Linked DNA regions of Homo sapiens: region 1 is linked to region 2. The links come from fine-mapping of genetic effects on gene expression. A gene starts in region 2. The other region holds a variant in brackets. All regions are shown on one strand. Distances are between the middles of the regions. Region 1 holds the start of SARDH (sarcosine dehydrogenase). Region 2 holds the start of DBH (dopamine beta-hydroxylase).

Region 1 (12,470 bases), 100 kb before region 2:
ACTGTCATCACTGTTGTTCAACATAGTACTAGAAGTCATAGCTAGAACAATCAGACAAGAGAAAGATATAAAGGGCAACCACAATGGAAAGGTAGAAGTCAAATTAACTTAATTGTACACTTTAAAATAACTTAGTGTAATTGGATTTTTGGTAACTCAAAGGATAAATACTTGAGGGGATTTATACCCCATTCTCCATGATGTGCCTATTTCATATTGCATAACTGTATCAAAGCATCTCATGTACCCCATAAATGTATACACTTACTGTGTACCCACAAAAATTAAAAATAAAAATCTTCAAAAAAGAGAAATTCTCAAAAGCCAAAGACAGAGATAAATTTGAAAGCAGTGAGAGAAATGCAATTCATCACATACAAGGAAACCCCTAGGAGATTATCAGTGAATTTCTCAGAAGAAATCTCATAGGCCAGGAGAGAGTGGGATCATATATTCACAGGGCTAGAAGGATAAAACTGTCAACCTTGGGAAAGATGTCCAGAAATGAAGGAGAGATAAAGGCTTTCCCAAACAAACAAAAGCTGTGGGAGTTCATTATCACTGCCTTACAAGAAATGCTAAAGGGAGTTTCTCAAGTTGAAATGAAAGGACAGTAACAACATGAAGACACAAAAGTATAAAAACTCTGTAAAGATAAAAATATAGTCAAATTGGGAGTACTCTGCCACTGTGTCTTAGTCCATTTTGCACTGCTGTAACAGGATGACACGGACCGGGTAATTTATAAAGAACAAAAATGTATTTCTCACAGTTTTGGAAGCTGGGGAGTCCAAGATCAAGGCATCAGCATCTGGTGTCTGGTGAGGGTCTTCTTGCTACATTCTCACACGGCAGAGGCAGAGGGTAGAAGAGCAAAAGGGGACAAACTTCTTCCATCAATCCCTTTTATAATGGCAGAGCCATCATGAAGTAAACACCCCAAAGGACACACTTCCCAATACTGTTGCACTGGGGACTAAATTTTAATATGAATTTTGTAGAAGACAAAAACATCCAAAGCATAGCATATTGTAATGGTGATACATAAATTATTTTAACTCTAGTATAAAATTTAAAGAATAATTATAGCAATAATTTGTTAATGGATACACAATATATAAAAGATGTAAAGTATGACCCCAATAACATAAAATGTGGGAGAGGAGAAATTAAAGTGTAGAGTTTTTGTATGTGGCTAAAGTTTAGTTGTTATCAGCTTAAACTGTTATAACTATAAAATGTTGTATATAAACCTCCTGGTAACCACAAAGAAAAATAACTGTAGTAGACCCACAAAAGATAAAAGGGAGTCAAAGCATACCACTACAAAAAAAAAAAAATCTCATAAAGACAGTGAGAGAGGAAGATAGGAACAATGAGACTACAAAACAATCAGAAAACAATTAACAAAATGGCAGTAATAAGTCCTTACCTATTAATAATTACTTTAAATTTAAATTGATTAAATTATCTACTCAGAAGCCACTAAGCAGCTGAATGGATTAAAAAACAAAACAAAACAAAATCCAACTATATGCTGCTTACAGGAGACTTGGTTTAGCTTTAAGGACACAGATAAGCTGAAAAATGTTATTCTATCCAAATGAGAAGCAAAAGAGAACATAAGTGGCTACACTTATATCAGACAAAATAGACTTTAAATCAAAACTATCCCAAGAGACAAAGACAGTTGTTATATAATGATAAATGGATCAATTCATCAAGAGGATATAACAATTCAAAAAATACATGCACTAGGCTGGGCACGGTGGCTCACGCCTGTAATCCCAGCACTTTGGGAGGTCAAGGCGGGCAGATCACAAGGTCAGGAGTTCGAGACCAGACTGACCAATATGGTGAAACCCTGTCTCTACTAAAAGAATACAAAAATTAGCCAGGTGTGGTGGTGCGTGCCTGTAGTCCCAGCTACTCAGGAGGCTGAGACAGAAGAATCGCTTGAACCTGGGAGGCGGAGGTTGCAGTGAGCCGAGATCATGCCACGGCACTCCAGCCTGGGCAACAGAGCAAGACTCTGTCTCTCTGTCTCTCTGTCTCTCTCTCTCTCTCTCTCTCTCTCTCTATATATATATATACACCCAACATGGGAGCACCTAACTCTGTAAAGCAAATATTAACATAACTGAAGGGAAAATAGATTACAATAATAGTAGAGGACTTCAGCACTTTAAACAGTGGACAGATTATCCAGCTGGAAAATCAATAAGAAAACAGGAGACTTGAGCAACACTACAGACCAAATGGCCCTAACAGATAGATTCAGAACATTCCATCCAATGGCAGCAGAACACACATTCTTGTCGAGTGCACATGGAACATTCTCCAGGAAAGATCATATGTTAGCTCACAAAACAAGTCTTAACACATTTAAGAAGATTGAAATCATATCAAGTATCGTTTCCAACCACAATGGTATAAAACTAGAAATCAATAACAGGAGGAAAAGTGGAAATTTTACACATGTGTGGAAATTTTTTTTTTTTTTTTTTTTTATTGATCATTCTTGGGTGTTTCTCGCACAGGGGGATTTGGCAGGGTCATAGGACAATAGTGGAGGGAAGGTCAGCAGATAAACAAGTGAACAAAGGTCTCTGGTTTTCCTAGGCAGAGGACCCTGCGGCCTTCCGCAGTGTTTGTGTCCCTGGGTACTTGAGATTAGGGAGTGGTGATGACTCTTAAGGAGCATGCTGCCTTCAAGCATCTGTTTAACAAAGCACATCTTGCACCGCCCTTAATCCATTCAACCCTGAGTGGACACAGCACATGTTTCAGAGAGCACAGGGTTGGGGGTAAGGTCACAGATCAACAGGATCCCAAGGCAGAAGAATTTTTCTTAGTACAGAACAAAATGAAAAGTCTCCCATGTCTACTTCTTTCTACACAGACACGGCAACCATCCGATTTCTCAACCTTTTCCCCACCTTTCCCCCGCTTCTATTCCACAAAACCGCCATTGTCATCATGGCCCGTTCTCAATGAGCTGCTGGGCACACCTCCCAGACGGGGTGGTGGCCGGGCAGAGGGGCTCCTCACTTCCCTGTAGGGGCGGCCGGGCAGAGGCGCCCCTCACCTCCCGGACGGGGCGGCTGGTCGGGCGGGGGGCTGACCCCCCACCTCCCTCCCGGACAGGGCGGCTGGCCGGGCAGGGGGCTGAACCCCCCACCTCCCTCCCGGAAGGGGCGGCTGCCGGGCGGAGACGCTCCTCACTTCCCAGACGGGGTGGCTGCCGGGTGGAGGGTCTCCTCACTTCTCAGACGGGGCGGCCGGGCAGAGACGCTCCTCACCTCCCAGACGGGGTTGCAGCCGGGCAGAGGCGCTCCTCACATCCCAGACGGGGCGGCGGGGCAGAGGTGCTCCCCACATCTCAGACGATGGGCGGCCGGGCAGAGACGCTCCTCACTTCCTAGATGGGATGGCGGCCGGACATGTGTGGAAATTTAACAACACAGTCCTGAACAACCAATGAGTGGAATAAGAAATCAAAAGGGAAATAAAATAATATCTTGAGGCAAATGAAAATGGAAATGCAACATACCAAACCTCATAGGATGCAGCAAAAGTGATTCTAGGTGGGAGGTTTATAGCAATAAATGCCTACGTTAAGAATGATCTCAAATAAACAACCTAACTTCACACCTCAAGGAACTATAAAATGAGGAACAAATTAAGGCCAAAGTTAGCAGAAGGAAAGAAAGAAAGATCAGAGCAGAAATAAATGAAATACAGACTTAAGAAACAATAGACAGGATCAACAAAACTAAGAGTTGAGTTTTTTTGAAAAGGTTAACAAAACCCACAAACCTTAGGCTAGACTAAAATAAAAAAAGACTCAGATAAATAAGAAAATTATAAATGAAAGAGGAAAGATTACAATTGATACCAAAGAAATAATAGACAACTATGCCAACAAATTGGATAACCTAGAAATGAATAAATTGCTAGAAGCAGACAGCCGACCAAGACTGAATCCCAAAAAAAACTAGAAAATCGGCCAGGGCGTGGTGGCTCACGTCTGTAATCCTAGCACTTTGGGAGGCCAAGGCGGGTGGATCACCTGAGGTCAGGAGACCAGCCTGGCCAGCATGGTGAAACCCCGTCTCTACTAAAAATACAAAAATTAGCCGGGCATGGTAGTGCAGGCTGTAATCCCAGCTACTCAGGAGGCTGAGGAAGGAGAATCAATTGAACTCGGGAGGTGGAGGTTGCAGTGAGCTGAGATCGTGCCACTGCACTCCAGCCTGCGTGACGGGAGCAAGACTCCACTTCAAAAAAACAAACACACAAGAACAAAACAAACAAACAAAAAACTAGAAAATCTGAACAGACCAATAATGAGTAAGGAGATTGAATCAGTGATCAAACACCTCCTAACAAAAAATAGCCCAGGATATCTGATGCCTTCGCTGGTGAATTCTGCCAAACATTTAAGAAAGAATTAATGCTGATTCTTCTCAAACTCTTCCAAAAAATTCAAGAGGAAGGAACACTTCCAAACTCATTTTATGAGGCCAGAATTACCCTGATACCAAAGCCAGACAAGGACATTACAAGAAAAGAAAATTATGGGCCAATATCCTTGATGAACAGAGATGCAAAAATCCTCACCAAAATATTAGCAAACCAAATTCAACAGCACGTTACAAAGATCATGCATCCTGATCAAGTGGATTTTATCCTTGGCGGAGGTGACTTCTTTGAGGTGACAGCCCCTCTGCTGGTGTGGTCTGGAAGAGAAGATAGGAGCCAGGCTGAGCCTAGGCTGTCAGTCCCAACCAGTGTAAGATCACCCCCTATCTGCCTGCTAGTCCCCTTCTGAGACTGGGTCCAGCTCCGCCAGGTTGTAATACTCACGTGTGGCCACCAGGGGCGGTGTTTCCTGCCAAGGCTACTCTTCCAGGGCAGACAGCCTGGAGGTGACCAGTGACTTTCATCCGTGGTGGGCTGCTGCCCTCACCTGAGTATCTGGAAGGGCATTCAGATTCTGGGGCCCAAAGAGAGCACTGCACAGTCCTCCCACCCTCCGTTCTGTGCAAGACGCACAGTTCCCTGGCTGCCCAGCCAGCACCAGCATCTCCTTTGAAGGTTACTCTTGCTCCTGCAGCTGGATGGAGAGTCCTGGTCAGTGCTGGGAGTCCTGGTCAGTGCTGGAAGGGCAAAGCTCCCAGATGCCAGCGGGAAATGCAAAAGGGCAAAATGCAGGGTAAGAACTGTGGCCAGCTGGAGTAGGAGTGACCCACCTAAGTGTGTCCAGTGGGTTTTGGGCCCCATGTGGCCAGCTTTTCAAGATTGAAGCTTGGAAATCTGGATTTTTACAGGGAGTTTCCAGGGCAACACATACAAAGACACAAAGCACAGCATGGGTCATGCCAGGGATCCCCTGCCCTTGGGCAGGCACATGAGAGCCCTGGAAGGTTTGGCTGACTAGCTGAGGGGTCTAGGCGGTGCTTGTGGGTCTCAGACCCTGGTGAGCCCAGGCTTCCAGCTTCTGCCCTCCCTCTTGCTTCTCCATCCTTCTCTCCAAATCCCCAGTGCAGACTGGGGCCCTACGCCAGGGCTGAGGTCAGCTCCCCACTGTGGGCAGGAAGTCCTTCTGAAGCCCCATGTCCTGTGTCCCCATCAGACGGTGGCAGTGCCTGCGGCCATGGACACAGTGCCCCGAGATGATTTCTTTTCTTTTTTCTTCTTTTTGAGACAGAGTCTAGCTCTAGTCTCAGGCTAGAGTGCAGTGGCGCAATTTCGGCTCACTGCAACCTCCGCCTCCCGGGTTCGCACCATTCTCCTGCCTCAGCCTCCCAAGTAGCTGGGACTACAGGCGCGCACCACCACGCCTGGCTAATATTTTTTTAAAATTTTAGTAGAGACGGGGTTTCACCGTGTTAGCCAGGATGGTCTTAATCTCCTGACCTCATGATCTACCTGCCTCGGCCTCCCATAGTGCTGGGATTATAGGCGTGAGCCACCGTGCCCGGCCCCGAGATGATTTTGAAGCACTCCTGGCACCTGCCTGGCATAGGCTCAGCCGCCGGGATCCACCATGTTTCCATGGATTCCACCGCGGATTCCATCCACCATGTTTCTTTCACTCACAAACAGTGTTAGGCCATGGAGTGGAGAGGGTGCTCCGGGGAATGAGGATCTGCATTCCGGCCCTCAGGAGCCCGAGCCCACAACGGCCCCAGGCCACAACTGCCAGGTGGGGGTCACTTCAGCAGCTCATTCCTGGGAATGCCTGTGCCCAGATGGCTTCAGGCCTGGAGCAATTTCCACCTGCCTCTGTGCATCGGTGTCAGGCAGATGGGGGCAGCCACCTGCTTCTCAGGAAGGACCACCCTTACCCTGGGAGGGCATCTCTTCTACTTTGACAGAGGATAGAAAACATTCTGTCTTCATGAAATCACGGGGATATTCAGTGGTAGTTTTCTTTTTCAGGTTCTTATTGAAAAAATAAAATCTTGGCAGTGTAAATTCAGCCCTTGAAAATTGTTCTGGAAATTTCCCTGGCCCATGAATCACCTGGGTCTGGCACCTGTTGGCTGTGTTCTCCCTCAGTTTTCCCATCTCCACGATGGGTAGCAGTTGTTGCTGTCTCATTTGAGATGACACGTGTGAAGCCTTTAGCACGCTGCCTGACTCCCAGGAGGCCCTCAGAGGTGACTGGGGCACTGCCTTCCTCCTGGTCAGTGGTGATGTTGGCTCTTATAGTTTGGGTTGGGATGCTGTTGCTCATGTCCTCTTTCACAGGGCTGCACGCAGAGCTCGGTGGAGGAGCCTCCTCCCCCAACGCCTCCGCTTCTTCCTCCCTGGACTTCTGCCCCGTCAGAGGGCAGCCTGCAGGCACCTCTCTCTGTCCTGGAAGCCTGGCCAGCAAGTCGGGGCCAAGGGCTGGTGGGGG[C/A]CTGCAGAGAGGGCCAGCCTGAGCCAGAGGAAGAGTCTTGGGGTTGGCTCAGGTATGTCCAGGCCATGAGGGCAGAGGAACAAGTCTACCACAGTCCCCACTGGAGCGGTGGCGGGGAGGCTGGGGAGGGCAGTGAACCTGGAGGCAGCCCCTCACTCCTGAATGTAGAGTCAACTGTGACTTTGATTTGCACCACAGTTTTCTTCAGAGTGCACTAAACATAGAGTCATACTCATTTTACGAGACCAGCATTACCCTGATACCAAAGCCAGATAACATTACAAGAAAGAAAATTATAGACCGATATCCTTGATGAACATAGATGCAACAATCCTCTCAAAATATTAGCAAACCAGCTGGGCGCGGTGGCTCACACCTGTAATCCTAACGCTTTGGGAGGACGAGGTGGGGGGATCACTTAAGGTCAGGAGTTCGAAACCAGCTTGGCCATTCATGGTCAAACCCCGTCTCTACTAAAAATACAAAAAATTAGCTGGGCACGGTGGTGCGTGCCTGTAATCCCAGCTACTTGGGAGGCTGAGGGAGGAGAATCGCTTGAACCGGGAAGGCGGAGGTTGCAGTGAGCCGAGATCGTGCCACCGCACTCCAGCATGGGCGACAGAGCAAGACTCCGTCTAAAAAAAAAAAAAATTAGCAAACCAAATTCAACAGCACATTAAAAAGATCATGCACCGTGATCAAGTAGATTTTATCCCTGGTGGGGTGACTTCTTTGAGGTGGCAGCCCCTCTGTTGGTGTGATCTAGAGCAGGACTGAAGGAAATTTACTCAGGGAAATTTACAAGGCTTCTGTGAAACTGACATGGCAGGGCTTCCAGCCTCCTGTTCCAAGATGGGAAAACTAAGTCTCAGCAAAGGGAGAGGTGATAAGACCAGCCCGAGATCGTACAGGACCCTGTCTTGGCCTCCTTGTCCGGAGCCTGGCCTCTCCAGAGCTGTGACTACTAGTCCCTGGGGGGAGACAGCCTTTCCACCTCTCCCAGACCGGAGCTGGGTGCTAACAGGCCCTGCCGGATGAAAATCCTACGATACTAACAGACAGCTAACAGGCCGGGACCGGCCCCCAGCCACCACCCCTTGTCCAAAGTGCAGGTTCATTGTGCTGCCCTCTTGGCTTGTAACAGTTTTGCAACAGTTGCAACTTGTCTTTGAGTGCAGGGACAGGAGAAGTGTGGGCTACCCGGCCACTGCCCTGGAGCTGTGGTGACTGCTGCGTTTTTCTCCCATGCACTTGCACGTCCAGGACTCCTGGGAGAACTTGGGCCACACTCCTTCCTTGCCCTCTTGAGCTCATTCGTCACCCTGTTGGGTGAGCACAGCCCTAGCTCAGGCCACTGGGCAAGCCACACCATCCAAAGAGGAGGTCCTCTGCCCCAGGACCCCCACACCACCCCAGGTAAGCCTCAAACTGGCGGGGCCAGCTTTCCACTGGGCAGCCAGGGGCCTAAGCCAGTGGGCCCTTTGCCTTTGAGGCAGGGACTGAGAATGGTGTCAGCACGTGGTCAGGCCCAGAGCCCAGGCCCCCTCCTCTAAGAGGTCCTCCTGGATTCCCTGCTGGAAGGAAGCCAGCCTTGTGGTGTCGTGTCTCTCCCTGGATCTGTCTGCTTCGTGGACCCTGAGCCCCTCGAGGGCAGGGGCTGGGTCTTAGATGTCACTATAGGTTTCCCAGCAGTGCTTTGTACACATTGGGCATTCAGTAAATGTAGAGGATAGACAAGCTGGCAACAAGACAGTCGGACATCCTCGGTGTGAATAAGAACACAATGATTTGATTGGTATTAATTACAGCAGTTTACTATACGATCGCTTCCGGTATTGGCAGCTGGCATCATTACAATATTAACAGACTGCCATTGAAATGCCCCGTCTTTGATCCAGCGCGAGGAGGAGATGTGACTTTCCATCAGCACCTGTTCTGATTCTTTGGGCATCCAGAGGTGTATTCTTTCTGGGTTTCCTCCACACCCCTCCTCTGGGTGTCTACTTCTGTCTGGGAAGGGGTAACTTGCCCCAGCCCAGAGTCAGGCTGCAGCATCCGGTCTGCCTCCTCCACCAGCTTGCTGTGTGGCCCCCTCCCTGGGCACTGCTGTCCCCAACAGTCAATGGAGGCTGGAATCCCTGCCCTGGGGGCTACGTGCTGTGCAGTAGCCAGTGGCTTGGGGGCATCTCCCCAAACACCAGAGGGGTCTGGGAGCTCGGGAAAGCAGGACGCAGACAGACCAGGAGACCCTGTCCCTGGGAAGCTGACCCAGGCCTTCTCACTCGCCTCTGAAGGCAGTGAGCATCCTGTCCCTGGGGGTGAGCAAACTGGGGCATGTGCTGAGATGACCTCACCAAAGGAGCCTCCCTGCAGTGGACGGGCCCCTGGCCCAAGCTGCTGCTGACCCCACCTTTCCTGCCCACCCTGCCTGTGCATAGCTCCTTCTGGGCGCGGGGAGCTCGGGCGGCTCCAGCAGGCAGGTGGTGCCTGGGTCTACTGCAGCAACCCTGAGGCGCCTGTTTCAGAGACGAGGAAATGAGGGTTGGAGCGGAAGGGTGACTGCCAGGTCGCCTACGGGTAATGGGGCATGGGGTTCACAACCCTGCTCTGCCGCCCTCAGAGGGAGCTGCCCACAGGGCTGGCCTAGAAGCCCCAACTAAGCTGGCCTAGAAGCCGCAGTGGTGGGCGGTACGCTCCGCCCAGATCCTGGGCGGAGACATGGGGCTGGCAGCGAGGGTGGGGGGCGGGGGAGGCCTGGAGTTCCGGCCAGGCCACTGCTTGGGAAGCAAGAAGGTGAAGGCACCTCTGCTGGGCCAAGCACTCTTAGGGCCGAGGGGCACTGCAGCTGACAAGAGGTACTTGGAGGTACACCCCCAGGGAGGGACGAGGCTGGGGCCTCCCCTATGTGGGCGGGGCTGGGCCTGGTCAGATCTGGCTGGGATCTCCCTCTGCCTCTGGCTGCAGGGACCATCCAGCTGCATGAGCAGGACCAGGGTTCACCATATGGGCAGCTGCCTCCCCGCCCCCTGCCGCTCCTCCCCACAAGTCTGCCTACCCTCACCAGGCGAAGGTGCCAGGCGCTCTCCTCGCTTGACCCCCACCACCCCCTGAGCCTGGGAGGAGGAGGGCGTTCCTGGGTCCTCTGCTTTGCAGTGAGGTTAAGTTGTTGCTCGAGGCCCCAGTCCTGTGACAAAACCCCCACCCATCTGTCTGATCCCAAGCCCAGGGCTGTCCTCAGCCCTCACTCCTGGGAAGCTGACTCAGGTACGAGACAGAGTTGGAGGGGGCAAGAGAGTGGGTTAATGTGGAGGCAGCTGTTTCCAGGGAGGTGGCAGGCAGGAGGGGCTCTGGGCTGTCCCCGCTGGGGCCGCTGCCAGCCCCCAGTCTGACAGTCAGAAGAGCCCTGACTGACCAGGCAGGTGGTGAAGGGGCACGTGGCAGCCTCCGGCGCCAGCAGCTGTCGCTTTTTGGGCACAGTCGGAAGGAGGAGGGAGGCTTTTGCCCACAGCTGACCAGGTGTGCTGTGCCATGCGGCACCGTGGTGGGTGGTGGGTGGTGGGGTGGGGGTGTTCAGCCTTGGAGGGCCTTCCTCGGTGCCACTCAAGCTGGCTTTCCCCTGGTGGGGCACCACTTTTGGGGGCTCCTGGAAGACTGTGGACCTTCAAGGACTGAAGGTATGTACAGACACATGCAGGAGGCATGCCTCCTTGTCCGGGGCCACCTCTGCAGGCAGGAGCCAGGCGGGCTGACACACTGAGGGCTGAGAGGCTGAGGACAAGCTCCAACACCTCCTCACTCCCCTACGCCGCTGCAATCAGACTCCCTGCTCCCTCCCTTGGGATGGGGCACTGGGGCAGGAGATGGGGGGCAGCCCTGACCAGCCTGAGAGCTGGGATCCCCCTCACATCCCCCACTGTGCCTAGGACAGGGTTCTGGGCTTCGTCAGGGCTTGGGCAGTGCCCACAGTTCAGGTGGGACAGAGTGTGGCAGTGGGTCCTGAGTCCCCCTGGGATGGTCAGAAGAGGGGGCAGGAGAGAGTCCCTGGCACTGCCACATGGAGGCCCTATGACCCTGGTCACCTCAGGGAGCCTCTCCGTGTGTCAGACTCCCCCGCTGTGAAGTAGAGACATTATCATGTGTCTATAGGTGTTCAATGAGAGTGAACGAACGTGCATAGCTATGGTCCACTCTTGAAAAAGGATGCTGACTTTCTTAGATAATTATATCAGTCATTCATACTGACGTAGGTGGCACAGCACTTCACATCTTGGATCACAGCCACATCCCTTTCACTTTTCCTGCAGATCCCAGAAAAGGGCAGTGGAGGTCCACACTGGGCAGGACACCACCCCACCCTTCCATTGAGGGCTGTTGTGAGACCTCCGTTCTTAACTTCTTAGTTTAAAGAATTTAGGCTGGGCACAGTGGCTCATGCCTGTAATCCCAGCACTTTGGGAGGCCGAGGCAGGCGGATCACCTGAGGTCAGGAGTTCGAGACCAGCCTGGCCAACATGGTGAAACCCTGTCTCTACTAAAGATACAAAAATTAGCCAGGCATGGTGGCATGCACCTATAATCCCAGCTACTCGAGAGGCTGAGGTGGGAGAATCGCTTGAACCCAGGAGGCAGAGGTTGCAGTGAGCCAAGATCATGCCACTGCACTCCAGCCTGGAAGACAGAGTGGGACTCTTTCTCAAAACAAACAAACAAACAAACAACAACAACAACAACAAAACAGAATTTAAACATGAGACACACAGCAAAAGAGCTGCAACATAGAGCAATTTATTGCAAAAGAAAAAGAACATTTTGAAAGTTAGGTGCGGATGCACCCTGGGAGAGAGAGGATTCCAGGCGGGGGGCTGCTCCTGAGTGTGAGGCAGCATTGATGATTGTTGGAGAAACCCCCTTTCAGGGAGTCTTCCACAATTATTCATAAGTGGGTGGAAAGAGAGGAAGAGGTTACTAGGCAGCATGTGATGGCTGGTCCTCTGGGTGCACATGCGGTAGCTGTACATGTTTGTTCATACGTCACATGTCTCTTTCGCATCTTTTTTTTTTTTTTTTTGAGACGGAGTTTCACTCTTGTTGCCCAGGCTGGAGTGCAATGGCACAATCTCGGCTTACTGCAGCCTCCACCTCCCGGGTTTAAGCAAGTCTCCTGTCTCAGCCTCCAGAGTAGCTGGGATTACAGGCATGCACCACCACCCCCGGCTAATGTATTTTTAGTAGAGATGGGGTTTCTCCATGTTGGTCAGGCTGGTCTCAAACTCCTGACCTCAGGTGATCCGCCTGCCTCGGCCTCCCCAAGTGCTGGGATTACAGGCATGAGCCACAGAGCCCGGCCTCATTAGCATCTTAAAATCTCCACCGAGGGGTGTGTTTTTTTACTATTAGAATGAGCAAAGGGTCAGTTTGAGGACAGGTAAAATCAATGTGCACATGCCCTCTCCAGGGGAAAGGCCCTACTGCAGACAGCTTTGCTTGAACGAGCTCAGTTAACACGAGCTCAGTTACAGTGCAAACGTGGAGGCTGATTGTGTGGATTGCAGTCACCACG
Region 2 (12,470 bases):
CTCCTGCAGCCCCAGTGGGAGGCAGGGCAGCCCTGAGGTTAGAGCCCGGGCCCAAAGCGCACCTTCAAGGCCATGCCTCTTCCTGCTGTGTGACTCTGGACACTCACATAACCTCTCTGAGTGCACCTTCAAGGACATGCCCCTTCTTGCTATGTGACCCTGGACACTCAACCTCCCTGGGCCACACTTCCTCTGCTGGAAACTAGGGGCTCTTATGATGAAGGAGGGATCACCTCGCCCCTCCCCCGGGACTAGTGGCATAGTGGACACTCGACAGCTATCGCCTTTGCTATTCTGTCTTCCCCGGACGGGTGTTCGAGAGCAAGTGAGTTCTGACTCGAGCTGCTTTTTCATGAAGGGGGAGGTGGCCTGGCAGACAGACAGCAGTTCCAGTCCCAAGGAAAGATGCAGAAGTCAAGATGTTGGTCACTTTGGTCCAGGCAGGGAAGTGGGAGCTCCAAGGCCCTTTGAGGGTAGGGGAGTGAGCAGAGTGATGGGGAAGCCAAGACCACTTGCTGCTCCCCTGCTCAGGCAGGTGCCTGAGGTTCCAGTGATAAGAGGACACCTGGTCCAACCAGGACTGTGGACAGCTCTCCAGGGTCAGGGACAACCCAGGCCCGGGAGGAAGGCAGGGCTGGGCGAGGACCTCGGCCCTGGACCCGCACGTACCTTGATAATGTGGTGCCGAGAGAAGCCCTTTGGAAGCTCCTTAATGTAGCACCAGTACGTGGTCTCCTGGCTGGGGATCTGGATATTGGGAGCTTGGACCTCCATGGTGCACGCGTCTGAGGGCAACTCCGGTTCGGGGATATTGGGCTTCAGGAGCTGCACCCTCTGCAGCCCCATCTGCAGGCCCGAGCCGTTGATGGCCTCCAGTGACCGGAACGGCTCCTCCAGGATCCCGTAGACCAAGTGGACAGTGCCGTCCTGCAGCCGAGACAGGGTTCAGCTGGTCGCCCTCTCAGAGCCCCCAGAGTTGGGCTCCTGAGAGGATGCCACATCCCTGCCCACCCACACCTACCAGGTGACACACCTCACTCTCATCTCTGTGAATAAGGGACCCTTGAGGCTTGCATGGCCCTGGCTGGGGCCAAATCCCGGGCTGACGACCCCCAGGATCCCCTATTTGCACCGGCCATCAAATACTTTTCTCTTCTAAACACATTCCACCTACATTCACTTAACATCCATTCAACCAGTGACTACTGGGCCCGCCGTGAGCCAGTGTGGCCGGAACATTTGTTCCCTCCACCAACCCCAAGGTCACTGGGGACTGGGTGTGGGGGATCATTGGTCAGTTCAGCAGCCCAGCCTGAGGATTCAGTGCCCTCTATGAAGGGAAGGAAACACCCTGGGGCTTGCTGATGGTCACGCTGAGCTGCGGAGCCACGCTATATTATGTAGTCACCACCAGCTTGGCAGGAGGGGACCAAGCAGCCACAGAAAGCTCCATGGATCTACGCGGTGCTGGAGGCCACAGGCAGACTCAGGAGGCAAGCTGTGGGGCTGGCTTCCTCACATGCTGTCATGAATGGAAACGGGGATCGGGTGTGGAAAGTGCCTTTCATAGCTTTCTGGGCACTCCACAGTGCAGACCCGTGTGGGTGGCTAATTTGCTCTTTGAGTTTGCGGAAAGCCGATGGGCCGCCCTGTGCAGGGGACGCCCAGAACTCCAGGCAAAGGCCCCTATACCTGGCCTGGGGCCACTGGGCTGAGCACACACAGGCATTGGCCTCCCCCTGTGAGGTGCTTCCAGAGGGTTCTCTGCTCACCCTTGCCTCGTCCACTGGGAAGCAGGGTAAGGGCTCAACAACCTCCTGGAAGAACACCTCTTCTGGCACCAGGTCTGCCCCAGCACACCCCGAACCCCTGGGTACATCCACTCCCCGTCTCCGGGCCTTAGTTTCCTCATCTGGCAAACAGCCAGCTGTTCTGTTTTCTTAGATTCCGTATTTGTCTATTTGGCATCTATTAATGGATTGCAGGCTCAAACAGATGGCCAGAGTTGTTTACACCTGCCCTTCCCTCCAACATTCACGCTTGTGTGAGAATCATATTCCCAACCCTCCAACCCGTCCCAAGCCCATATCCTTAGCCACCTCCTCCACCTGACTGTCACACACCAGGCCAATATTGCCTCAGCCCTAAATCACCCTAGGGCCAGGAACCAGGCAACTAGAGACCACCCCGGCCACCCAGAGCCCACCAGAATTGTCCAAATGAAGCAACTTCCCTGCCCTGCCTGGCCTTTCCCATGGAAACCCCAAGAAAGCCTCAGGCCTGGGCTCTCCCCTAGCTCCTGCATCTGCCTCCTGACCAAACCCAGGGCTCTGCAGGTGGCCCTGCACGGCACAGGTGCCCCTTCTCTCCGGAAATGCAATCAATCTTTCGATGGCACTGGCCTCCCGTGTGGTCACTCAGCTACACCCATGATTAAGACCTGGCACTAACGGCCAGCCCAGGCCACTGCCACACCAAAGGATTACTTACACAAGACAAAAGCTGTCAGGTGTGCTAGAGTTAAAAGAGTTTTGTCTTCAAGGGCAAGGTGGGTTGCTTTCCCTAAGAGGTTGGGGGGCTCTTAGAGCAGCATAAGAAGCCTATGGCTTTTACAATGTTTTATGGCTCCCATGAACTCCCAGAGTTGGTCAGGCCATACAGATCATCTAGTTCCCATCTCCATTTTACAGATGGGCAAAGTGAGGTCCAGAGGAGGGGGGCAGTTGTCCCGAGCCTCACAGCGAGCTGGCAACAGGGCCGGGATGGAAAGCCAGGTCGCCTGGGCTCCAGAATCCCACCTGATGGTTAACAGGACCAGGAGGAGAGAGACATCCAGAAGCAAGGTCTAGTCCAATGGGAGAGGCTTCAGCACAAGCCCCGCATCTAGAAACCATGTCAGCTACGTGTTGGCAAAGAGCTGCGTCTTTGAGGGCTCAGGGGCAATAGCAGAGCTGGACCATCCTAAGTGCTTTGGCCCCACCACTGCCTCTGGCCATCCTCCTTGGCTTTCTCTCTGTCATAGCTGGCCAGGCCCAGGCCCCAGACTTATCAGGGACAGGAAAGGTACTATGACATTGGCACAGGATGGCAGCATGATACACGCAGCCCACGCCCTCCTGGGTACTCGCGGCCACCCCTTACTTCAATGAGGTAATCCTTGGGGTCGCAGGTGCCAAAGGGCCTCTTGAAAAGCAGGGTCAGGCCTTCTGGGGTCCTCTGCACCTGCAGCAGCTGGTAGTCCTGCTGGGGATCCAGGTGGATCTGCCCCTTCTGGTCACTCCAGGCGTCCTGCAGAGACAAGCACTGGGCTCCAGGCATGAAGGAGCCAAGCCGGGCCAATCCACAGGGGAAGAGGGCATTCCCCGGCAGAGCTCCGCATTCATTGCCAGCTGATCTGGGGATGCTGGGCCTCAGTCCCTGTGGATCTGAGGGTTCTGCCTGGGGCTGTGGCTTCACTCACACCTTCTATCTCCATTTCTGCCTGGAGACAGTGGAGATGAGCCCCGACAGTGGAGTTGGTTCCTCCTCTGCAGCCAGGAACCAGGGCTGTCACTTGCCAGCAGGTCACAGGTTCTGTTAGCCATGGGCATTCCCGGGCCTGGCGGGCGGGACACTGAGCTTCTTAAGAAGATGCCTGAGGCTCCCAAGGCCTCCTCAAGACTGGGAACAATGCCTCAGACCAATGCTGCCCACATTCATGCAGGCAGGAGAGTTGCGGAGCCTCAGAAAGGGGAGAGTTGGGAACAGGGTGGGACATGAACAGGAAAGGAGAGAGAAACCAGGGTGCCACATCTAAGATGGTGATTGATAGCAGGTGCCCACCCTGCACTGGCACAACCCTGAGAACAAGCACTGCTTTATTACTTTATAAATACATGTAATTTTGGATTTTTTTTTTTTTTTTTTTGAGATAGGGTCTCGCTATGTTGCCTAGGCTGGTCCTGAACTCCTGGCCTCAAGCGGTCCTCCTGCCTTGCCCTCCCAAAGTGCTGGAATTACAGGCATGAGCCACCACACCCAGCCTGAAGCACCACTTTAAACCCTGCAGCCTAGGCATTGTTCCCCTCACCTTAGTCCCAGCCCTGCTTGGAGAAGGTAAACTGAGGCCCAGGGAGGCATTGGACCTGCTGCATTCTCCGAGGATGCTTCCTGGGATCTGGATCAGTGACCTCTGCCCTCCCCGTCTCCGGCCGCTCCCCTTGCACTGGGCCCTAAGGGGCAGGGACACGGTGGCCCGAGGCCAGGTCACATGGAAGACCACCAGGGAGACCCACTGAGAGACAGCGAGGAGCCTTCCCCAACAAGCAGGCTGCCCTTCGTACTCAAGAAGGGCCCTTCTTAGATTCCATATTTGTCTATTTGGCATCTATTAATTGATTGAAGGCTCAAACAGATGGTCAGAGTTGTTTACACCTGTCCTGCCCTCCAACATTCACACGTGTGTGAGAATCATATTCCTAACATTCCGACCCACACCAAGCCCATATCCCTAGCTACCTCCTCCACCTGACTCTCACACCCCAGGCCAATATTGCCCCAACCCTAAAACACCCTAGGGCCAGGAACCAGGCAACTAGAGACCACCCCAGCCACCCAGAGCCCACCAGAATTGTCCAAACGAAGCTGCTTCCCTGCCCTGCCTGGCCTTTCCCATGGAAACCCCAAGAAAGCCTCGGGCCCTTGGCCTTAAGGACTTTGGGTTGTGTTTCTTTTTAATCTTACATTCAGGGTAAAACATCTTTTCTTCATTTCCTTGAGAAAAAAGAAATCTGCAAAAGATACTGCAAAACTTTCCCTAGAGAAAAAAGCCACACAATGCAACCCCGCTGGGGACACCGCTGGTTTGCCGAGAGACTCATTTTAAACAGAGGCAGAAAGTTCGCCTGTGATATTTCAGCTGGAAATCAAGAAGATATTAGTTGAACATATTGCTTAGGGAGGAATAATAAGGCTGACATTTGCTTTCGTAGGAATTTGTTGTGCAAATTAACCTTGCCAGTGCACGGAAAGGCAAAGTCACCTGGCTTCCTCTGGCTTCCCTAGCAGCCGGGAAATGCAGGCAGGGGGGACGCTGCCCCAGAGAGGAGCAAATGCTCCTGCACTCAGGGTGCCTCATGGCAGAGGCTTGCGAAGAACCCCAAACTGTCAGCGATGGGGTTCAGCTGCTCCTCCAGACGGCTGACGGCTCAGAATCAGGGCTGTCCCAGGTCTTTCTTGGCTGGAACCTGAGCCACAGAGTGTCTTTGTGCACAGGAATCTGTGCAGCCCTATGGGTCAGAGCAGGGCCCTTCCCAGGCAGCTCCACTCACCCTACCTGGGTGGCCCTAAGCCTCACTAGCGACACAGGCAAGTGCCTCCTGGCCGAGTCTTGGGAATTGGAGGGGGCAAGCTCAGCTCCAGAAACAGCAGCCACCATCTGCCCTCATGAATTCACAACACCCAAAAAGGCAGAGAGGGACTCTCCGCCCCACCAGCCCATGGTGAGACCAAGATGCAGAGCTGGAGCCGGCCGCTCCGCACAGACACAGCTCCCCCGCTCCAGCTCGGCACTCCCAGATAAAGCAGGCACCTCCTGACTTCAGAAATAAAACTTTTTTGTCACTCCTTTGTGTGTTTCTGTGGAGAGAGTTGGGTTTCATCCACAAAGAAGCCCTGGTGGCCAGTCCCATGTGGAAAGGAAGGCTGGAGCAGGACCCATTGTAGGCGGTGGGCTCGCCCACTTCGGGGACCCCCTGCAGCTTGTGGAAGGGCCTAAAGTCCCCTCCAGTTTGAAGGGAAACTTTTCCCCTTTCTCCACCCTGTGAAACAAGAGTGGAGGTAAATTTGGACGGAAAGGAGTCAAGAGCCCATCCTAACAGTTTTGGCTGAGCCCTGTGGGGCTTGTTCAACACCTATGGGTAGGGGCAGGGTGTCTGCACCTGCTCAGTTGGTCCACGGGTACAAGCACAGTAGGTCAGGCTGGATCCCATGGGTGTGCAGGCCTCATGCTGTGCCCAGCCACGCGCCACCACCTGGCCCACATCAGTGGGCATGTGTGCTCTGGGGACGTGGTACTAGGCATTGTTTACAGGGCCGAGGGTCGTGGGGTCTGTGCTCATGCGCGTGTGGGGTGTGGAGCGGCACGAGTGTGTGTGGTGTGTGCGTCCTCTGTGTATAGTTCCATTCCTTGGGATTACTGGGTCCCATGATTTGGGGCGGGCAGTCAAGGACCATGGAAAGCATGTCTTTCCTATTTTGTCCTCAAACTGAGATCCCCATGATGCCCAAGCTCGGGGTGCAGACTTGGCTCAGAGCAGAGTCAACTCAAACACTGACAGGTGACAGAAGAACTTTCTGGGTTAAGGAGGGTGAGTGCAGAAAGACGGCCAGATGGGGTGCCGGGTCAGGAAGGGTTTGGAGAGCTGGCAGGGAGGAGAGACTCACCGCAAAATAGGCAGTGTCCCCATCGGTCCAGAGCACCACGAGATCTGCGTTCTCAAGCTCGCCACGGTCGGACATCCCAAACAGGACGCCAGCCTTGAGCCTCCGCACCAGGAGCTGGAAATGGATGGCCTCCTGGGTGTAGCTGACATTCCATGAGAGCTCCAGGGACCCCTCCGGGTCCAGGGGGATGTGATAGGGGAGGGGGCTCTCACGGGGAGCCGAGCCCTGCAGTGCGGCCACCAGGATGACCAGGAAGATGGCCACTGCTGTGCTGTACATGAAGGCTGCCTCCCGCATGCTGGGGCCGGGCAGGCTGGCCCAGCGACTGAGGGCGGGCATGGCTGGGGTGAGCTCTCTGGTCCCACCTGGCCATTTATGCCCTGGTCCTGAATGGGGTGGGTCCAGGCAGCACGGGTAATCACATTTGTCTAGCGGGGAATCCAATTTTCCCTCCCACAAGCTTGCGCCCCAGGCCAAGCACTCAGCCTGCTGCCCTCCTCTAATTGGCACTAATGACACATGGACGTCATCAGTGGGAGTTGAAGTAGACAGGCGGATGCTGTCCCTTCTGAGATGGCTCTGAAGAGCTGTCCCAAAAGCAGATGCACCCTGCAGCCAAGAGGCCTTTCAGACACCCTCTGGCCAGGCACCAGCTGACTGCCTCACAGGCTGTCTGGCCCAGTCCCCAGTGGGATGGGGTCTGCGTCGCCTCTACCCACGGATGAGCAGACTGAGGTCCGAGGAGCTGCTCCAGGCTGACCAGTGAAGGATAGGCCCGTAGCCACTGCAGGCCTGGCCTAGCGAGCAGAGCCGTTTGTACAATACTAGCAGGTGGGCCCATTTCAAACCAAAAATAAGACAATCTCCAAATAGTCCCTGTGTTTAGACACTCTCTCCACGGCCTGCTCTTCCCACTTTTGTCTCCTCTCAATTTTTCCACAGCCTCCAGCTGGTACCACTGCTGCTCCAGAAGGCGCGAGAGCATCATAGGGAGTGGGGGACATGGGCGTGGGGTGCATTGCTGGGGACAGACGGAGCTGGAGCTGCACAGGGGATAGGCAGGCTGCAGGGTGCACTGCTGGGGGTGACAGCCTTTAAGGAAAAGAGGGTGAGTGACAGGCCTGCTCCCCTGTCTCTGAAGCTCCCAAACCCACAGCTTCCTCTTGCCCAGAGCAGATCTGGCCTGAATTTGAAGCCTCTCAGGGCAGCTGGCCGCAGCCCTGCTTCTCCCACACCTGCCACAGGACCTTTGCCATCATCCACCCGTGGGCCCGAGGGTCAGTCTCACCACGGCACCTCTCCCTCCTGTCCTCTCCCACAAGTAGACTGAGGGCAGCTGCCTTCAGGACATTCTGCTTGATCCCTCCAGCTCCACCCCCCAGGCTGGGTTGACAGATCTCTCCAGCTGGACTAGAAGCTGTCCCTCCTCCCCAGCCTCCTCCCTCCCTTCCTTCCTTTTCCCTCCTGTTTCTCGTCTCTCTGGAGAAACCCAGAATCTAGCCTTAGGGGCACATTCATGTCATAGGCTGACAGCAACATTTAGGTCCTTAAATACCCATGACAGCAGGTCTGGAGGCTGCTTCAGCTCTGAGCTCTACGCTGTAGAAAGGAATGACTGTGTCTTTGCACGAACGTGAAATTTGGAGAAAGTGCCAGCCTTCCCCTGGCCCTCGCAGGCAGTGCTCTCTGCCCCACAGTGGCCAGGCCATCCTGCAAAGCCAAGCTCAGGCCATGAGCCCCTCCCCACTGATTGCACCCAGAGGGGCACCGTTCGCCCCCACCCACAGCCCAGGCAGGTGAGGTCCAAGTGCATAATCACCTGTGCAATAGAGTGTGGCATTGGTGTGAAATTGTCTCCCAGGCCAGGGGAAAGACACTCTTGGGAGTTCTCTGGTGAGCCTTGGGAAGGGTCTCAGCCTCCGAAGGCCTGGCTTTCCCATCAGGACATGCCACCTCCGTCGCCTGAGAGCACCTCACCTTCATGCCTCAGATTAGTTCCAAAACCTCCTCACCTGTGCCTTGTAAGCAGGTGTCTGCTGCATCCCGGACATTCACTCTCGGGACTGGGGAGCGGCCACAGCGAGCCGGTGATACGAAGAGCCTCCGGGGTGGGCAGGCACTGGTGTTCCCAGCACGGGATAACAAAAGCCAGCAGAGGCAGAGGTGAGGGTCACGGGCTCCACAGCACACCCAGCTCAGGGGTGAGCCCTCCCAGCAGCCTGGTGGCCACCCAGGTGGCTCCAGCTAGACAACAGGCTAAACGAGCACCAGCTGGGGCCCGCGTTGTGGGAAGGGGGGCACCTCTCTCCCCTCTGGGGTATTGAGGCCCCAGGCACCCCTCCTGCTCCTCCGGGGTCAGAGCTCTGGGGTCATATCCTGCTCCGCCCTCCTGAATGCGCAGCTGGCGTCCTCAGAGAAGCGCTTTCCAACCCAGCGCCTCCTCCCCATCTACAGACACAGGAAGTTGGATGACAAGGACAATTGATCCCTCCAGCTTCCTTCAACCCAGCGGTTCTGTGGAGCGAGAGGCAGTGAAGAGCCCCTGATGCTACCAGCCCTTGGACGGCTCAACACACCTCCAGGCCTCGCTCCTCTCCCGGATACGCCAAAGACCAACAGCTGCTGGGAGCTCTAAGGAGGGACGGCAGGTGCGGTCTCGTGCTCAGCAGTGTTATGCACACATGTTTATTTTTAACAGGAATCAAAGACATTTTCTTTATCCAACTCAAAACTGGCTTTCCTCTAGCATTTGACAGAAATGATTCAGCTGATTCCAAAATACTGATAACTAAGTCCTAGGGAGGGACAGGAGACACAAGTCAGGCCGCACCAGGGCTTCCCCTGCCCTGCCTCCATCCTGGCCAGCCTTGGGTGGCTGGGTGTGCGATCATCCCTGTCTCAGACACAGGAGAGTCAGCCTCGGAGAGGCGAGACAATGCGCCTGAGCTCACAGGGTGGGCCAGTGCCTGGGGCAAGCACCCCAAAGAGGGTGCCCTGAGCTGGAGGGGGCTGCACACCTTGTCAGCCAAGGTCAGAAAAATTCCACTGGAGTCAAGAGGAAGGGACGCTCAAATGAAAAATGCAACCGCAGAGAAAATCTGCGGAGACTGGGGCCGGGCGGGAGGGAGCGAATCCAATCGGATGGCCCCGTGGCTGCGCCCTTCCTTGCATTAATGGATTTTAAAAGGGAGCAATCCGACCCCAGGGTAAGGAAGCAACAGTCAGCTCTCCTCCTGCCCTCACCCTCCTCAGAGGTGACACCTGCTTGCCAGGTGCTCTCTTGGCCACATGCCTCCCTGTGGTGCCCCGCGGGGGGCTTTCCTCCCTGCTCCCACCCCTGCTGCCTCTGCTCCAGTGTCTGGGTGCACGTTGCCCTCCAGAGGTGGCGGTGGGGGTGGGGATGGGAATGGGGGTGGGAGTGGGGTTGGGGGTGGGGTAGGCCGGGGAGGTGCAGGGTGTCACGGCCACGGTGTCAGGAAATAAGCCCCATTCCTGCTGCTCAGCGCCTGGCTTCCCTCCAAGGCGCATCGACGGCTGACCTTGTTTAGAACCAATTTCAGCTTTTTAATAAGCCCTTTGCTTTCCTGAATCTCTCTGATGCCATCAGCCTTTGCAGGCTGTAATTCCCCATCGCCTCTGCCACATGAGGCTGGCTTCTGCTGACGTCCTAACCTCAGGCAGTGACAACCCCAAGTGGAGCGACGGTGGTGCAGACTGGAGCTGGGTGAGTGAACAGGCCAGGCCACTCCCCAGTGACAACGGGGCCTGGCCACAGGACAGCACTGTCCCTCGCCTGTGGCTCAGGCTCTTAGGGACCTCCTCTTGGCAGGAAAAATTCAACTATCAGTCTGATGGCAGTGCCTAGACCTGACTTGTGATGGGATGGATTGGGAGCTGCTGGGAGACGGTGACTCTGTCCATCACAGAGCCCACTCCAGGGTGGCACAGTCCCCTTGGGGAACTTGGGGCAGCTGGCCTATGTCCCTCCTCGTCCTGAGCATAGGGGCTGCGGTATGAAAGTTAAGAGGCACATTCTGGGCTGGGCACAGTGACTCATACCTCTATAATCCCAGGACTTTAGGAGGCAAAGACGGGAGGATTGCTTGAACCCAGGAGTTCGAGACCAGCCTGGGGAACATAGCATGACCCAGTCTCTACCAAAATAAAAATAAAAACAAATTAGCCAGGCATAGTGGCACAAGACTGTAGTCCCAGCTACTCGGGAGGCTGAGGCGGGAGGATCGCTTGAGCCCAGGAGTTTGAGGCTGCAATGAGCCCTGACTACACCACTGCACTCCAGCCTGAATGACAGCGAACAACCCTGTCTCAAAACAAACAAACAAAAAGCATATCCTGCCTGAGGAGGCAGCGGTGGCACCATGCCTCTGCCTCTGCTCATAAGCGTAGGTGGCCGTGAGAGTTTGAATGCTTGGGATATCCCATGGCCTGAGGTGTCCAGGGCCTGGGGCACTGAGTAGGGTGGCTACAGTGGGATCAGCATGAGGACTGGGCCCAGGGCAGGTCACAGAGGTGCCCAGAGCACCACTGAAAGCTTTCCTCAGCTACTGGATTAGAGGCACCCTCTGGCCCTGAAGCTCTGTGCCAAAAGCAAGGGGCCACTGATCCCAGAAGGGGTCGGTATCGTGAGCCCCAGTGACACTCCCCTGGAAGCTCCCAGGGAAGCAGAACCCAGGAGTCTGTGGCTGGCTCCAGGGCTGGGGCTGCCAGGCCTGCCAGGCCACTCCTGTGTGACCCCAAGCAGCCCCACTGTGAGCAAGTCCTCCACTGTCACTGGCAGGCGGCTGGCCTGGGCAGGACACAGCCTCCCCCGCCTCCATCTCTCCTCCATACACAGGGGTCAGCGAGATGGGGAGGTGGACTCTCACACCTGCGTGGCCTGCACCCCCAGCTCTGGGCTCATGCTCACATACTCAGTTTTACACACACACACACACACACACACCCCTCCAATAATTTGGCCTCAATCTTGGGGCTGAGGCCTGCTGGGCCCTGAGGAATCTTACAGGGAAACCCTTTCTGGGTCCTGCTTCTCCTTTTCTCCATAAGGATGCGTGACTGCTCCTCTCTCTTGAGCAGCTCATGGGGGGAGGTGCATGTGCCTGATTTTTGCATTTTCAGCTTTTCTGAAGGGACCACACTGCCAGGATGGTGGTGGGTCCTGAGGCAGTAGCTCCAGACCACACCCAAGCCACAGCGTAACTGTGGGCACCAGATGGAAAGAGAGGCCCTGAAACCTGCCGGCCATGTGACCCACCCGGACAGTCCCCACAGCCCTGAGCCTTCTTTCCTCATCTGTGAAATGGCCATCTTGCTCAGGACCGGCACTGGCGCTGACTTCTGGCTACAGAGGCTGGGCCCTGCGTGGCCTGCACCAGCACTCAGGGCTGCTGGTCTTGCCCCCCGCTGGCTCCTGCCAGCCATGACCCTCTTCCTGAGGCTGTAGTTCATCTGTCAGTAAGCTTGGTCACCTCAGAGATCCACCAGGTTGACCTACCATTGACCCAGAATGGGGCCGATGCAGTGAGGGCTAGCGAGACAGCCCCGGGCTGCCCTCACCCGCATCCATCTCGGGGGCTGCTGCACCCACTGACATCACAGGGTCCAACAGGCAGGGCTCTGGCCCAGGAGGGTCTCGGAGAACATGAGAATCCGCCTCCCTCCCTGGAATCTCTCTGAGCTTCTGGCGTGTGGTGTGACAGACAGAGGGATGTCCCCCAATGGCCACGTCCAGATCCCTGCAAGTCGGGTAGGCTACCTGGGGAAGGGACATTCAGTGTGATTAGATTAAGGACCCGGAGGTGGGAGGTGGTCTTGGATTGGCTGGGTGGACCCCATGTCATCACAAAGGTCCTACGAGAGAGAGAAGGAGATGCATTGATGGGGTCCAAGGAGAGGAGGCTGCTTCCAAGACGGAGCAGGGGCCATGAGCCAAGGGATGTGGAGGCCTCTGGTAGCTGGAAAAGGTGGGAACAGATTCCCCTCCCAGAGCCCCCAAAAGGAGCCAGCTCTGCAGACACCTTGATTTT

The links.
Region 1: its variant is fine-mapped to the expression of DBH in esophagus muscle (GTEx, PIP 0.95).

What each region holds. Positions count from the first base shown.
Region 1 is chr9:133,735,549-133,748,018 of GRCh38, reverse strand. It overlaps SARDH (sarcosine dehydrogenase), which reads left to right and starts at 9,667. Exons shown (of 21, transcript NM_001134707.2): 1 at 9,667-9,765. RefSeq lists enhancers at 2,058-2,352, 4,723-4,782 and a silencer at 4,794-4,944. The variant C/A (reference allele first, on the strand shown) is at 6,911.
Region 2 is chr9:133,630,664-133,643,133 of GRCh38, reverse strand. It overlaps DBH (dopamine beta-hydroxylase), which reads right to left and starts at 6,771. Exons shown (of 12, transcript NM_000787.4): 1 at 6,424-6,771; 2 at 3,142-3,288; 3 at 670-927. The coding sequence starts at 6,762. RefSeq lists an enhancer at 4,771-5,506.